2 separate regions of the Homo sapiens genome follow, and region 2 is linked to region 1. A link means that fine-mapping ties the variant in region 1 to the expression of a gene that starts in the linked region. Tissue or cell type: whole blood. Region 1 holds a variant in brackets; the other region holds the start of a gene. All regions are shown on one strand. Distances are from middle to middle.

Region 1 (8,693 bases):
ATCACAGAGTACGGTTAAACCTTCATGAATGCGGCAGCTCAGATCTCAGGAAGTAGGGTCATAGAAGCAGTTATATATTTAGTATTCCCTGTTCTTTTTAATCTTCTCCTCCCTCTGTCCACATTTTGCTCTTTTCCAATAGACAATTGGGCAAGATAGGGGAAAGAACAGTCAGTTCTCTGCCTCAGCTGCAGTACTAAGTGGGTGACAGAATGAATTAGGAAAATGTATCCCTAATTCTGCTTATTTATTAAATTCCTGGTGTCTCAGAATTTAGCCTGAAACTTTTAATCTGAGAATGTGTATCATGAACATCTTAAAGTCTGATATAGCCAGTGCAGCTGCTCTCACTGCCTATCTCCACACAATATGTACAGAAGACTGGAGATTTTTGAGAAAACCTTCTTTGGAGGAAACTCATAGATAGGAGGAAGAAGTTGTGGGATTTCCCCTTCCTTCTGACTAGAGAAAGAAAGGTGTACCCTCTTTCTTCCCAAATAAAGCTTAGTGAAGGAGCCCCCTAAAATTACTCCAAATAATTCAGCTGACTGCAAGAAGGTGTACAGGTATTCTATTTTTGGACTAGATGCTTGTTAAATTGTAATTTCCTAGTCCTTACTATGTTGCAACTGGTGATTAATGCAAGAGACTTCTTATTCCCCAACATTTAGAATTTTAAGTTTTAATTTAATTTAATTTAATTTTAATTTAGAAGTTAGTGGTTGAATTTTGCCTAGGTAGTTTCAAAGGTAAAAGATTGGCTGGAGTAGTCTTACTTTTGCAGGATAAGGCAAGGAAATCCAGCAACAAAAATGTCTATAATTGCTTTATTTGGTAGTAAAGGAAGTGTGAGGTCCTAAGGGCTACATAGTACCTGGAATAGCAGCTGTCTTGAAATTCACCCAAGTGGGTTGGCCAATGAGGTGAGATTTAGCAGAAAGAAGCTAAGAGTTTTCTGCCAGGGACAAGAGATGGAGCAGGGTATAAGTGATCAGGTAGGTAATATATCAAAAAGTTAGAGAAGGGGACAGTGCAAAACTCCCTTAAGGGAGGGAGGGAAGGGGGACACTCCAAAAAACACACAAATGGGCCTTAAAATAGAAAGTTAGCTTTTGGATGACGACTGTGTTGGAGGGCACCGAGAGCCACATTGTAAAAACAAAACAAACAAAACAAAGTAAAACAAAAACAAAACATTTGACACATAGCATATGCTTTGTCCTTCTTCCTTCAAAGCTCTCTTCCTATTCATATTCCCAATGCTGGATGTAGAAGACAGGTGGGAAGGAACAGAAAAGTTAATTGGAAAGTAAAACCAACTCTACAACTCCTTTCCCCACAGGCAGGTCTACAAGCCATGAGGCGGGCCTGAGACGAGCAAGAGGGGAAGAGCAGTGAGCCAGATTTGAAGCAGAATTTTTGTTTTAGAGTTCACTGGATGTAGAAAGAGATGAGATAGGAGGTCTGGTCAAGATGCTGTTCAACGATAGACAACCGAGGTATTACAAAGCATGTTGGTAGGCACTGGCAGGAGAAAATTCCTGAGTATACCATACCAGGTTCAGCTCAATCATAAACCAATAACCCATTTTTGGCAGAAATCATTTTATTCCCTCTCATCCACTCCATTAAGTTTGGTAATAGTCCTAGTTTTCATTTGGGGATCCTTTCTGGTAAACCTAATTCCTGACTCTAAAAACAGGGCTTATAGCTCAGGCTAAAATATTTCAGCATAAACTCATCTTCTGGAGACATTATTGGTTCAAAGAAGGGTGGCAACCAATTGCAGGTGGCTTGGGCTCCTGGTGTAGGGTTCACTGAGGGCTGGGATGGCAGCTTCAGGGATCTCAGCACCAAGCCCCAGTGGCACCTTCGGAATCTTTATTCCCCCAGCAATGGCTGTGACCCTGAGGACTCATTTGGGTCCTTGTAATTGCCCTCTGCTCAATGAAATATATGGCCTTTTGACTTTTACACATGCTTCTTGCCAACTTTTGGATCTGGGAGAGGGGTTGAGAAGACCTCATTCACATATCTCAGGCCAGGGTTGGCCATGGGAATAGCAAATATAATTAAAGAAATAGTCTCCTTCTGATAATCTCAGAACATCATCATCAGCTCAACTGATACAGAGCTGGAATATTAGAAGTCTTCAGAAGTTGCTTAATTTTTAAGGACGAAAATGCTGAGGGTGCTAATGGTCTTTATTTTTTTCATAGACATGGTGATAAGGATCTGTAAGACACAAGGACATTGGCATAGCTCAGAATGTGATTAAATGTTGTACATGAGAAATATGCAATGCAATTGTGTTTGTCAATTAAAAAAATAAAATATATACAGGATTGCTTTGGGGATATTCCCACCACCAGCCAGAATGTTAACTACATTTTGGATATTTCGATATGAGTTGCATTTTGATTGTAAGGTTACTCAACTTGCTATTCTTTATTCTATGGTGGCAAAAACAAGATAATTCCATCCAATCAAAATGCTTTGGAAGCTTTAATATAAATTGCAAGTTAGCTAAAATTATTAAAAGATGGCTAGGAAAATGCTAACGATCTGTGCAATTTGTTTTGTATTATTTCTCCTAAAATTAAAGTTGGAGAACTAAGTGCAAATCACCAGAACAGCTAATCCAAGTGGTTTTTGTACCACTTGTCTTTCTCATAGGGAGTTTGAACTTTTTAAGTGACATGAGAGCAATCATGGGACACTATACTGACAAAATGTGTTTAACCCTCTATCCAAGTTCATGTCATAGCAGGTAGTTAGGATTGGACACATATGAATGTTTGTTGAAGTGTTGTGCCTCTGAAGGAAAATCACAGATTCTTCAACCACATGTATTCATGTAGATTCCTGCAGAAATATCTGGAGTAGCACTCCTGGCTGGTTTGAATTATGGATTAACCAACGAATGCTTTGATGTATAATATTTCAATGAGAACCAAAGCTATGTCTCCTAGAGGGTTATGTGGCAGATGTATTTGTCCACATTAGACTCCTCATTATATAAGACAGCTGCGTAGATGCAGGACAATATCAACCATGAGGCTTATGCTTGCAGCCCAAGCAGACAACAAAGAGGTATAAAAACATTCTTCAGTGGCTACAGACATCTAGGACACCTAAGAAAAAAAATGTGGGTTTTATATTAAGTTTGGAAGGGGTGGTGTCCATACTTGATACCAAATATTTTAAATATCATTTTCATAATTAGTTATTCTGGGTATAATAAATGGAATTTGAAATCTATGCATGTCTTAAAACTCCTCAAAGAGAAAATTATACGTATTTTTTTAACTTATATTCTTGCAGCTAACTGAGCTTATTTTTCAATAATAGTATTTTTGGTTAACTTTTCTGTCCTGTTTATGGTAAACTCCAGAGGCATGAGAAAAGTTTGAAATTCTATAGAAAGCAGTTTATTTTATGCTTTTATTTAGTCTACGAGACACATTTTCCCAATAATACCAATTAACTACTCAGCCATCTTTTTGTTATTTGGAGAACTTTCATGTTATAGTTAGTAATGACAATTGTTATAAGATAGTCTTTGTGTTTACCAGTGAATGATTACAAGTAAAGTGGAAAACAATTTTCCCATGAGGAACAGCCACCCACTTTTCAGTGTCTACCTGAACTGTCTTAGCTCTGCAGTTAATATACCATTTTAAAATTTTCCTGAAAAAGATTGTTACAGTAGTTCTCTACAGATTTCTGAAAATCTACTCTGAATGTGTTGTGATTAATGTCGGAGGAAAATGTTATAGTAGGCCTAAAACAGAGAACAAAGTAGTGGTTCCCAAACTGACCAATTTCAGAATTAACTAGGGAGTTTTGAGAAACAGAAATTTCCTTTATCCTGCCCAGATATACTCAATCAGAATTTCTAGGGCTGGAGTGGAGTGGAGGAATCTCAAGAAAAAACAACAACAAAAAAGTTTTCCTGCTCTAGGAAGCCATTGTTTTAAAATTAATGGCAATACCAAATTTGCTAAAGTAACAGAGAGATCTATAGGTTTTCACTTTCACTTTTTGAAAGGTCAGGTTTCTAGACTCTTGGGGAGAAACAAACTGTATCCCAGGCTGATGCAATTAGAGGACAAAGCAGCAAGTTAGAAAAGAAACAAAATGACTACAGAATAATCAGTAAACTGAAAGATTTAAATCATAAATGTATAAGTGCCCTTAAAGAAGATATATGTTATATAGTCTCTAGATCTTTTCATCAGGAAAAGTCAAAATTGTTCATCACAAAGATAATCATTTGCATCGATATGGTAATCTCTTTTGGTCTTCAAAACAGTGAAAGATAGACAGGAACGTTTCTATCTTCCTCATTTTGAGAAGCAAAGCTTGTCTCAAAATTACAGATAATTGAGCCAAGGTACAGAAGCCTATGTGTGCTGATCTGTTCTATTTGGTGCTATGTTTTACAGGCAGAGCTGTGAAGTCAGGGGACGGTGTTGTGGGTGATACCTCACACTCTTTTAGTGTGAC[A/G]GGAAAGTAATAATGCATTTCTTGTAAATGTTGATAGCAAAGGTTTGCAACTTAAAAGGGGAATTTCATATATTTAGAAAATACTTTGAGGTGAAACCCTCACTCTTTAAAGGATTATTTAAAATGGTAATGCTACTACCTAAATTGGTAGATTGGAAGGGAGGTTAAAGGGCATTTAATCATGTTCCCTCATTTTATAGGTGAAGACTCTAAGGCTCAGAGTGCTTTATGGTTTGCATAGTAATTCATAGCTAATCTGAACAATTTTTGGAAAAATAACATCTTTTCTATTTTTCCATCATTATGGATTTGTTAAAGATACTAAAATGAGCTAATTGGTGATTTGTTAGTTCAAATTGCTAATTTTTTAACTTTAAATTTCACTTTTCATGCAAAAATGAACCTTTTTATAATACTTTGAACTGAAGAAATCTTCTTTTCTAAATAAGATGTCATACAACTGAGATAAAGTTTATTATTTTACTTATGAAGGATTCCACCATTCCCAAAATTAAAGTGTTACTTTCTTTACCTGAACACTAATAATAATGGTGGTTTCAAAGGAGCAGCAAAAGAGAAATATTTTCTATTTTTCTTTACAAGCTGTTTACTGTTTTTATTTTGCTCTCTGGTAATAGACAGAAAATTATATAAAACAATATTTTGAGGGAATTTTTCTCCTGGTTGGTTTTAAATCACTGTGCTCCCTGAAACATTTCAATGTTTAAATTCTTCTCAAGTTATTATATTCACCAGTACCTGATTAATCCATTGCAGATATAAAAATGTATTGAAGAATAATAAATGGATACCATGTGATTTTTTAAAACTTGGACAGCTAATGAATGTGGCAACATTTTAAAGGAGGGGATAGAAAAAAATGTTCTGCATAATCAATAATGCATAATTCATACTTAAACATCATTAATTTCTAGCACTACGACATTTTTAAATGAATATATTGAAACGGAAACAAAATATTTTACAAAATGTTTTCCATATGGCAGTAATCTAAAAAATGGGAAAAATTTGTCATTCTTCACTCAGTTTGGCCCAACAAGACTAAATAAAATATTTGTTATGATGTGATGGAAAATAGGGATCTTCTGGCTTATCAGGAAGTTTCTGGAAGTGAGCCTTTCTTACCTAATTGATGTAAAAAAAAAAAAGAAGAAGAAATGTATAACTTTTCAACTTGTAACTGAAAGAAATGGCAGTTTGGGAATAATGGTAATATTACTGAAGGTAAAGCAGAGTGCTATAGAAAAGCTATCTCTTGATGATATTCTGTGGTCCTTCAAGTAAATTAAGTGCAAAGGTTGGCCTCTTTACTTTTATTTACCTAGGCCAATTAATGCCCTTAATTTTTAAGCCACTTTGTGCTTGAGTTTTCTGTTGCTTATAAATCAACGCCTCTTAACTGATAGATCATTTCAAAATCTAAAATTGTACCATGTGCTGCTGTCATTGATGCTGCGTTTTTCTTTGGGTTTTTATCCAATGATGTAAATGTTATAAAGCCTGAAGCTATATAAGAGTATCCATTTGTAAATCAAATAGATAAATAACCTTTAGGTATAGAAAATAGCCTCAATGGGATTATTGTAGAATTCCCCTAGGAATATCATGAAGAGTAAATATTAATGCCTTTTAATTGCTGTAAACTATAGTGTGAACTATAAAGTTTACACTATTGACATGCAGGATCATGACCAATTTTAAAGATGAGTTGATAAATATTACTCAAGAGAATAAATTCACATCCATATCTGCTCCAAAGTAATTTTCTCAAACTTGCATTTGTGTCCTAGTTAATTTATCAGGAAATGAATCTTTAATTTGGAAATATAGTAGTATGGAAAGTTTGTCAAACTTAATTTCTTTTTGTAGAACACTTGACTACCCATATATGATCTTAATAGGATAGTTGGAAACAGTTGATAAAAGTGGACAGTCTGTTTCACTGGCATAAAGTCATCCTTTTTGAGGTCATTTATATTTGTCTATCTTTGAGAAAGCAACATACTTGGTTTCGGTTTCTAGGTGGAACTTCTGAGTCAAGTTGCTGCTCAGAGCATGTGGTATTTTGCAGACTTCAACTCCACCTCAGCACTTGGTTACTAACCACTTTTTTTCTCTAAAACATGGGCAGTTTATATATTATGAACATTGTGTTTACCTTCAGGATATGGTAGTAAGTAGTTTCAGCCATTACAAATCATCATTTTTTTTTCTCACGTCCCTAAGAGCCCCTAATAAGCATTTCTAAGTTCTTCCAAGCTTCTCTCTCCTTTCCCAACTCAATGTTCTGCTCCTAATCTCAGCTGCTCCTATTTTATTGAGTCATTGGCACATGACTCATCCATTACTGAGATTGAGCTGTGTCTACCCCAAAATTGTGACAAATTTTACCATATCTGAATGGATGTATTCGTCAGTTGGGGCTATCATAGCAAATTACCATAGACTGAATGGCTTCAACAATAGAAACTCATCTTCTCGTAGTTCTGGAGGTTAAAAGTTCCAAATCAAAGTCCAACAGGGTTGGCCTCTGGGGAGAGCTCTCTCTTCCTGGCTTGCAGACATCTGCATTCCCACTATGTTCTCACATAGCCTTTTCTTGGTGGGTATGCAGGTAAAGAGAGAGAAAACTCTGTTGTTTACTTTTATAAAGAAACTAATCCTATTTGATCAGGGCCCCACCATTATGACCTCACTTAACCTTAATGATTATCTTAGAGGCCTCATTTCTAAATACATCCACACTGAGGGTTAGGGTCTCAACATATAAATTTTGGTGGGGGGACACAAACATTCAGTCTCTAATACTGAAGAACAGGTAGTGGGGGAGATTTCAAAGTTATTATCTGCATGAGTTACTGAGCATAACTCTGGGATGTGGGAGTATAGGGAAACAATTCCTAAGAAGAGAGAGAATTGAAGCATGTTTGCTTCGTGGTCGATGGATGAAATCCAACCAATGCAGAGAATATACTCATAGAATATTATCTCTTTCTCAAATACTTCCTAGTCATGATTCACGAGTTAATGTTTGAAACTTTAGGATAAAGGACTAAGAAAAGTGAATAAGAACATCAAATGTCTTATAGTTGGACTTCCCTGGGAGAAAATGATAGTGTAAGATATGAATAGCCTCAACATTCGTGACTTCTAGTCTGAAAGACAACTGCGCTAGACCTTTGTCCAAAGATTAAAAAGTGTTTTGGGGCAGGGCGCGGTGGATCACGCCTGTAATACCAGCACTTTGGGAGGCCGAGGCGGGCGGATCACTAGGTCAGGAGATCGAGACCATCCTGGCTAACACGGTGAAACCCCGTCTCTACTGAAAATACAAAAACTTAGCCGGGTGTGATGGCGGGTGCCTGTATTCCCAGCTACTCGGAGGCTGATGCAAGAGAATGGCGTGAACCCTGGAGGCAGAGCTTGCAGTGAGCCGAGATCGCGCCACTGCACTCCAGCATGGGCGACAGAGCGAGACTCCGTCTCAGAAAAAAAAAGTGTTTTGGGATTCATAAATGAAGGTCATTAACACCCTTAATATTGAAATAAGCAAACATTGGACATTAGCATCCTTGGTCTAGGCATTAGCAGACAATGGAGTACCTCTGGTAGGCATCATCAAGAGCATTCTGGTGCTCTTGATGAAAACCTAAAGTGTGGTTTAACATAGGTATTCACAGAGGAAAGGGAGGGAGGGTGTAGTCTGTGAAGTGCTTGTGAGAATCTTGTTTTTGTAAATATGTGAAACAACCTCTATAATTTCTGCAGGGTTTAAAGTGAAATAACAATATTTATAGATAATATGTTCAGAATACCTAGTATGTACTTAACATTTAATCTTTTAGTAATCCTATGAAGTCATTACTAATATTATTTTCTCACATTACTGATGAGAATTACAGAGATACCTAGCACCTTGCCCCAGATCATTTAGCATGTGACAGAGCTGGCATTAGAAGCAAGACAGTTTGACTCTCTATTTTTTAGACTAGTGTTTTTTAAAACTGCTGGAATTCTTGTACTTTGTGTAAGTACTATTGTGATACTAGCTTTTACCCTGAGGCAAAGATGGGTTTTGAAATTCAGGTTCATTTAATGGGTGCACAATAAAGTTTGGGGAATTATAGCAATGAAAATATCTTTAGCCTGTGGGTAAGATATTA
Region 2 (8,693 bases), 110 kb before region 1:
TTAATTTATTTTCTTTCAGGAAATACGGTATTTTATGCTTGAATAGTTTTTAAAGTTATTAACATCAAAGTAGCCCCTAAACCATAAAGGGAAGAGGCTTGGTGACATATTTCAACAAAATTATAAATACAGTACTCAGAGGTTGGTTGAGGGCTATGACAAAGAGAAATATTTACATAAATTGAGAAAATGGATTTTTTTTCAATCTAACATGCTTCCTTAAGGATACAACACAACCAAATTGGAGAATCAGTAACTGACAAACCTCTTTGCATATAGTGACCTCCTCTCCTTGTACTACAGGAAAACATTTCCACCTAGAGTCCTTTCACAGAATATCTAGAGACCAAACGAAATCAACCATAATGACTACCAGAGCCAGATCATAATCAGTTTTTAATTGAAGTATCAAGCCAATTAATTTGTGACAACTTCCTATCACTTCTTATTCTTGACATGAAGTTGCAGAGGACTCAAATGGTTTTCTGGTCCATGACAGCTGTGGAACATTTTAATGTTTGGTCTCTTTTAAAATCACATTTATTAGAGAGGAAAGCATCTTTAGAGATGGAGTCCTAAAACTGACTCGAGATTACAAACCAGCCTCACCAGTTTAATTAGATTAAATGTCAAGAAAGAAAACTTCCCTTATACATCATATACACAGAGTCTTAATAGCAGATCTTCCTTTGGTTTTAGAGGTGTCTTTCAGAAATACATTTGAGCCCTAAATATGTATGTCTTTGTTAATTTAATTCAACAAATAAATGATTAGTGTATATATAAGTTGTACCTATATTCAGATGAGTATCACTTTTTCACACCATAAAAATTTCTAAAATACTGTATTTTAAGAACACAAACGATCCTTTTTGGGACTTCATCAAGATATATATTCTTGCCTTCCACACAGAGCATCATCCACTATAATACATGAATGACAAACTTTATATAAATCTTCCCTGAGATAATGCTATGTGTTATTCAGCAATGAAAAACATCAATAAATTGTCCTGCTTCCATTCCCACTACAGTAAAATTATATAAAAATATTAACATATATGTACCTTAATCAAAAATAATAGATGCCTTACATAACTAAACCACTTCTGCCATCAATAGGCAATCCATTCCATTTAAATTCTTAAGGTGAAATACCTGGCAGATCTCAAAACATTTTACTGGTTTTGAACAGGAAGTACATTTTTTTTTCTTCCTCACACTCCAACTGTATTGGGAGTAACGCATGCTACTGGGTGATGGTGACAGAACCCTAAAGAACATCTCCTTCTTTTAAAATGTTAACCACTGCTTCTAATTTCTGAAAAATATTTTTTGCCCTTTCAGTATGTGGCCCAATATTTTCACCAATGATGGATCTCAGCTTCTATTCAGTATTCCTGGAATATTCCACACCCGATGGTAATTTTTGGTCTTCCTTTAGTATTATTCTAAATATTCGTCTTTGTTAAGAGCCACCTTTCCAAGACCCTGAAACTGCATTACTGAGTGTAAAATGACCACATATGGTATGCACAAACACAGCACAGCACGCTGAAAAATACATACATTACCGGCTGACAGACACGGGGGTAATCACACCAAGCAAACACAATAAGCACTCTTTCATTTATTTATTTATCTATTGCTTAGACACACTCATCAAACATATTCAGTGCCCACTGAGCCCAAGGCAGTACACAGCACAGATAATATCTGTTAGGTGGCTTCAGCAAACTGGATTATGTCAAAGTGTGAAATGTGAAGTGAATCTGACTTCATCAAATAAACTGAACTCCAAGGCCATTTCCCAGCACTCACTCCCCCACCTCAAACACACAAGCTTAACTTCGCCCTCCTTCCTCTTCTGATGCTCAGACCATGACTTCCTTCTCATCCTTCTCTTCTCTTCTCTTCTCTTCTCTCTCTCTCTCTCCCTCCCTCCCTCCAAGTATTTCAGCAGCTTTCCTCAGTTCTCTGAGCCAATCCCTCGGAAAAGGAAATCAGCAAAATGCTGAATGGGGAGACTTCACCAGCAGGTGAAGAGGAAAAGAAGAGGGTGTGGTACTCGTTTTCTCCACCACACCCCATCCCTGGAGTCTTGCACTCCAGTCTACTGCGGCTCAAAGCGGGCACAGCAGGTCCCCTAGCTCACCTCGGAGCAGCCTGGCCCAGACCAACCACCCAGCGTTCTCCGCAAAAAACTTCCCTTAAAGCAGCCAAATATTCAAGGGAGGCGGGGGAAATTGGGCATTAGTTCGAATACACATACAACAGAGCACCACGGAGCAACACTGAAAGGCACCTTTTTTAGATACAGACCCTATAGACTCTCTCTCACCCTTCACTCCCTCCCACCCTGAGTATCTGACTGAGAATTTACAGAGAACCAAGAGGCGAAAGGAGAGTGGAGGAGAAAGAGGGCATTACCTCCCGGGGCTGCCCTCAGGGTGCGGGTCAGGATCTCATCCCCGAAGTGGCTCCAGTTCAAGGCACAGCTTTCCAGAGCTCAGCCGGGTTCGGACCTGCGTCCCCGCGGCGCGGTGCGGAGCTCGGAAGCGCGCCGGGACTGCCGCTCACGTCCCCCGCCCCTGCCGCGCGGGCTCCGCCACCCCGCGAGCACGCTGGCTCTCCGCGCTCACCCCGCCGCCTCCTGGCGCCCCCACACCCACCCGCTCCGCGGCGCCCGCTGGGAGCCTCTAGCGGAGGCGAAGGGAACAGCAGGCGACCTGCGGCGCCCAGGTTCCGACGCCGGTTGCAGGGAGCCGGCCAAGCGGCAGCGTGGGCTTCGCGCGCCCCCGAGTCCGCAGGCCGGGTGCCGCCGCCGCCCCCACCTGCCCACCTGCGCCAGGCTCACCTGCCACCGCGTCCTAGTTGCGTTCACCGGTGCCCACAGCTCTCTATGGCAATTGGGGGTGGGTCTGCGGTGCTAATAAAAATTTAAAAAAAAAACCTCTCTGGTAAAAAAACGAAAACCCAAAACCCAAATCCACGCTGTATATCAACCTCCACAGAGAACCCAGTCCGAAATCGTTTTCCAATAGGTTTCAGAAAGTGTGAGGACAGGACACTCCTCTGGCTTCCTGCCTCGCAGCTGGGCAGCGCCGCACCGGCTACTCCCTGACTTGCCAGGCGGGTCGTGCGATCGCGTAGCGACGCCCGGAGAGATCCTCCTAACTTGACTTAACCCCCACCCCATCCCCAACATCTATTTTAAGTTATTGTCTCTGGCAATTCAAGCAGCAGCTTTGCTGCCTCTTACCTTGAGGCGCTGTTAATTCTCCTTCGTGTCCTTAAAATCCCAAGCCAAGGATGCGACGCACACAAGTCCAGGGGCTTTTCCTGGACTTCCCCCTCCTCAGCTCTGAAGGCTCCTCCTTTCCAAGGGATCAGGAGGGGATGGCGGTTCAAAAGCCCTCACCATAGAGGCGCCTCCAAGCCTTCGTACCAGTGGAAATGGAGACCGGGACCACCTTCCCGGCACCCGGAAGCCTCCCAGCCCCTCCTGGGCCAACTTGGCTGCCTATTCAGTTTTCTTCCGTAACCCCACAGACACGTCAGTCAATTCCCTGGCATCAGGCAGGATATTCTCAGTTGCGGCCGCTCCTCTTGCTTTCTCTCGATAATGCCCCTCCCCCCTTTCTCCCCTTAATTTGGAAAAATTTCTACTCCCTGCCCGAATTAGGTGGGGATGAGGCGGAAAGGTGTAAGAAGAGCCACTCCAAGGCACAGCTTCGGAACACCGTCTCCCTGGGCTGCTGCAGCGCGAAGGTGTCTACGCTGGGGAAACTTTCAGGGGAGGCAGCGCCGGTGCGGGGCTGGGCGGGCGGCGGGCGGCGGCGCCAGGTGAGGAGGCTTTGAGGAGGCGGCTGCAAGGCGGGACGCAGGATAGCCGGCTGGGGCTTGGCAGCCGGGCTCAGAGCTCGGGCTGCGCACACACACAGGCGCGCACACCCGCGCGCGCGCAGCTACACACGCACGCCCAGCCCTGCGCCCGCGGCCCCCGGCCAGTGGCGAGCGAAAAGTCGGGAGTCCTGAGGAGGGGTAGGGGTTCCAAGGATGCTGATGACAGAAAGAGTCAATCAATCCTCACTAGTTAGCGGATTGCCGGCAGGCAGTTCCTCGCCGCACGCCGTTAAGTCCGTTGGGCCACCTCTCCGTTCTCTGCCCTGTCTGGCATTTCAACTCCCTAGCTCTTTTCTTGAAGCCAGTTACACCCCCTCGACACCCAGCGAGAGGCCACCAGACTAAAGATGAGCCCCGTTCCCATCGCCACCCTCCAGGGGCCACCTCCGCCCCTTCTGTAGTGGAGAATTGAAGTGGCTGCAGCAGCTCTCCTGGGAGCTGAGGGGCTCCCCGAGGTCCTTCGAATAGAGGAGCCTACACATCGCTTCGTGAACATAATCCCCTCGCATCCCGTCTTTACCTGCCCACTCCCTTCGTAACATTTCCCCCAAGGAGCTCCCGAAAGTCGCTTAGATGTTTTGAAAATGAATTTCTTAGGGAATTGTAGTGCCTAGCTTTTGGAACTGGGTTAATTTAGGTGCTACGCTTATATTGTAAACTGGACGGTAGCAGGTGAACGGCTCAGCTGGAGAAAGGGGAGGGATTAGGAGTCTGGAGACCCAACCCCTTTAGCAGCCATTTCCAAGGTTTTGCACCAGGAGTAGCTGTCCGGGTCTCTGGCTAGCTCCTGTCCCAACTTCTTTTTCTTCCCTCGACGGTCGGGAGGGATCACTGGGTGCTACACCGCTGGGGCGTCCCAGGCAGGAGAGACTTCGCTCTCAGAAGCGCCCCCGTGTCATCCACAACTCCCACGAAAGGAGCTTCCCAAGAGGAGTTTGTTTTACCCGGAATGGGCTGCAGGAATTAATTGCTTACAGAGAGTAAACTTTTGCCCGTTGTTTTTTTGTTTTTTGTGCTTTTTTTAACCAAAGCTTGCATTTGTGCTCCGCGTAGTTTCTATTGCAACAGAGCGCTACTCTGCCTTTTCAACTGTGAGACAGAGGATTGCTGAGGATTTCTGCCCTCTGGGGCTTCGCGAATATCTATGGCTTCGGACCTGCTAGCGGAAAACGCAAAGTTGCCCAGCTTGGAGATGGCACCAGGTTCCTTTGCTCTGGCGCTGGATGCTCCGCTCCGCCACCCACCGCCGCCGTCTCCATCGAGAATCTCCTCAAAATCAAGGGAGTTCTTGACTGTCCCTCTCCAAATTGGAAGGCGGTTGACTTTGCCGGGAACCGAGTTCCTGAGCGGCAAACGTGGAGTCGCAGAGCGCAGAAGTGAAGATTTAATACAAAAGATGAAACTTGTAGGATGACCTCTAGCAGCGCTACTCACAGCTCTGAAATCGATCCAGAGCATTCCACAGTGAGCGTTGCGGCTCCCAGGGGCTCCGGACCGGTAACTTCAGGCGCAAGTCTGAATTTCAGGGATGAACCTGCTTTGGATTCTGTTTGAGCCGACTCAGTGCAGAGGCAGTGACAGGGGCTGTGGGTTTAGGGGTGATGGATCCATGAAGGCTGCCACTTGGAGCGAGCAGACAGTTGGCGATACCCTCCCACTAACTTGCTCCGCTGCTCCGGGCTGTTCACAGACAGACCCACGCGTAAGGATTTAGAGTGTGTATGTCCAACGCCCAGACTTAACTTCTGGTGCAATTAAGGGAAGAGCTTGAAGCTAACCCGCGCAGCTTGCCTGAAGAAGTGAATAATGAAATCGGTGATGAGGTGCTAAGGAATAAAAAGAGGCATTTTGTTTGCGTGTGTATTAGTTTGCCAGGATTGAGTTTTTAGGTTTGATGTCCTAAAATGTATCTTCGACAGTGACTCTTTTGCAGCCTTTCAAGAGGAGGATGTTCGGCAGTATTTTGGAACCTGGTATGAATCTATACATTGTCTGCGTGCCGCAATATTTGATGCCTCTTCGAGTTCTAATTCTTATTCCTAATTAATAAATGACTGTTCCTGATAATGAAGTGGGAATAAGAATTATAATAAACTATTTCCAACAAAAGGCCATCTTTAACTTATGATTTCTGATTGTATAAGCCTATCAATTACCAATAAAATATTCTGCAGACTATTAGGCATGAATTGCAGAGCTGTAATGAAGAGACTCACTTGGTTCAAGAAAATTCAGAATTTAGAGCGACTCCTCTCCAAAAAGGTTGTGACTTCAAATTCCTTTCTTGGTTGCTGTTGGTATGCAGGCCACTGTCTGCAACTGAAGTTTCTGTTTAAAGTAAACATAGGTTATTTACATATTCATTAACTTTAATACGTGAAGGGTGCCTTACAGTGGTAGGAAATGTTGTGGAAAGTCTTGTACCAGCCATGGCGAAGTCTTTTTACTTGCTTTGAGTTTTTGATGTATGCGATGTGTATGCAGTAGTGGTAATCCATAGCATAATATTCTTGACATTTAAGCACCCTCAAAAAAAATAATAAAAACCTGTAGATTTATGGATCCTGTTCAAAAAATGGAAGAGGATAAGGATCACCCTTTTCCCCCTCGCCTTTTACATTTTGCTTTTATGGGGGAAATTATTTAACAAACAAGGAGAGCAAACCTCAGGATCAGAGGATGTACCCCATTCCCGCTACCCTTAGGTCTATCTATGGAATTGAAAAGAAACTATTGAGACTCAAAGATACTGTCAGATCCAAGAATCTGATTTCACCACCAAATTAAAATAACTACAGCATTATTCCAGTGTTGTCTATGTATTTATGTTTTCTGATAATTGAATTTGAAATATATGATATCTCTTCCAATGGAAACATCTTGATCCTTTTCCCTCCTTAAGATCATTTCTCTACAAACTGCCATTTTCAGAACACCTTTTACTTCTCTAGAGCATAGCATTCAGTCTATTGGTGTACTGTCTTTTCATAGATAAAAGCTATTCTTTCTTTACTGGTATGCCTTTGCTACTGTACTGTGAGCTCTGAGAGCACGGATCTTGTCATTTACATTGTTGTTCCCCAGAATCTATACAGAATCTAGTACACAATAAAATAGATGTATATGATGATGATGATGATGATGAAAGCGACCATGTATTGAGTAATGACTTAATGACTATGTAATGTGATTTATGTACATTATATCAGTTGATCCTGTTTACAACCTGCTTACCTAAATTTTATGTCCTCAAATTACAGGGAGATTGAGGCTTATGCAAATTTACCTAAGGTGACAAATCTGTTTTGTCACAATTAAGTATGGAACCTACACAGTATCTTTCTGACTCTGAAGCCTGCACTATTCATCATTTTGCTCTGTTCAAATAGCCAGGTCCCCACATTTTCAATTATTCAAGGCTAAAAGGAATTTATATGTTGTTAATGCTAAAAAGAGGCAAATTTAAAAATGAGTTCCTTACCTCTCATGCAATCGAGTCAATATCTATTTGAGTATCAAAACACAGGACCAGTTTACTTCTCTTATTGGGTTAAAATAGGAGAGTGTCTTCTTGGCATTATTTTCATGGGAATGCCAAATGCTGAGTTATGGGTTTCCTTTCAGAGAGGGGAGTCAGGCCATTGGGAATTTTATGGATATAGAAAACTTTTTATTGTTTACTTCCATGTTGATACTCTTATGTAAAACAGAGGAGGCTATTATAAAATCTCAGTTGTGTAAGATGAATAAATTCTAGAGATCTATTGTACAATAATGTGCCTATAATTAACCATACTGTATTATACACTTAAAAATGTATTAAGAGGACAGATCTCATGTTGGCTAATTGCCACAATTTTAAAACTAATAAAAATAAAAGCCTCAGAACACAGACAACACTGAATACAGAATGACATAGGAACATGCCATAGAAATGTGTTATAGTTGTCAATTTCAACAGCTCATATTATAAAACATCTTTTATACCTTGGATCATTACAGTACAAATACAAAATATCCATATCATGGAAGATTAAGCTGCTATGTAAAATAATGAGGAAATTCTCCTTAATTGGTATAAAAAGGTCTCCATGATATTTTTAGGTGAAAATTGCAAGGTGAAGCAAGGTGTTGTCTCCAAAAATTAATAAAATTGGTTGGGGTCATGGTGTAAGTGGGCAGATGGTATCAAAGGTAGAGGTTAGACTTTTTATGTTCTTTTGATTTTGGAACCGTGTGTAAGTTTTACCTTATAAAATAAAAGAGTGCCTTTGAGGGGTTGCATGGAAAGAAAAGTATAACAGATGTATCTCCGCCTTTTACTTAAAAAAGATGTTTGTTGCTGTTGTTGTTGTTGTTTTTAAAAAGGGTAGGTGAAAGTTGTGAAATAACCTGGCCTGCAATACATTTGCTCATTTACTCCTGCCAGGGAGAGACCTTGAGGGAAAGAAGCAAAAAGGGGTTTCTTAGTTCAGACTACTGTAACAAAATACCACCGCATGGGTAGCTTAAATAGTAGGAATGTATTTCTCACAGTTCTGGAGTTCTGTGAGAAACATTTTTCACAGTTCTTGGAAGGCCAAGATTAAGATGCTAGCCAATTTGGTTCTTGGTGATGGCTCTTTTCCTAGCCTGCATACAGCTGCCTTCTAACTATGTCCTCACATGGCCTTTTCTCAGTGTGTGTTGGGGGGAAGAGAGAAAAAGAAACAGAGACATTTCAGCCACAGTTTATATAGCAACTAATCCTATCATGAAGGTCCCACTCACATGACCTGTCTAACCCT

Evidence for each region.
Region 2: LINGO2 starts here. The variant in region 1 is fine-mapped to the expression of LINGO2 in whole blood (TOPMed, PIP above 0.99). The same link has a PIP of 0.9 or more in blood mononuclear cells.

Annotation. Positions count from the first base shown.
Region 1 is chr9:29,315,867-29,324,559 of GRCh38, forward strand. It overlaps the pseudogene PDK1P1. Among named protein-coding and RNA genes, the nearest start is that of LINGO2, 110 kb to the left of the region's middle. RefSeq lists an enhancer at 6,490-6,579. The variant A/G (reference allele first, on the strand shown) is at 4,510.
Region 2 is chr9:29,209,660-29,218,352 of GRCh38, forward strand. LINGO2 (leucine rich repeat and Ig domain containing 2) reads right to left here and starts at 3,942. Exons shown (of 7, transcript NM_001258282.3): 1 at 3,263-3,942. RefSeq lists a silencer at 2,533-2,582.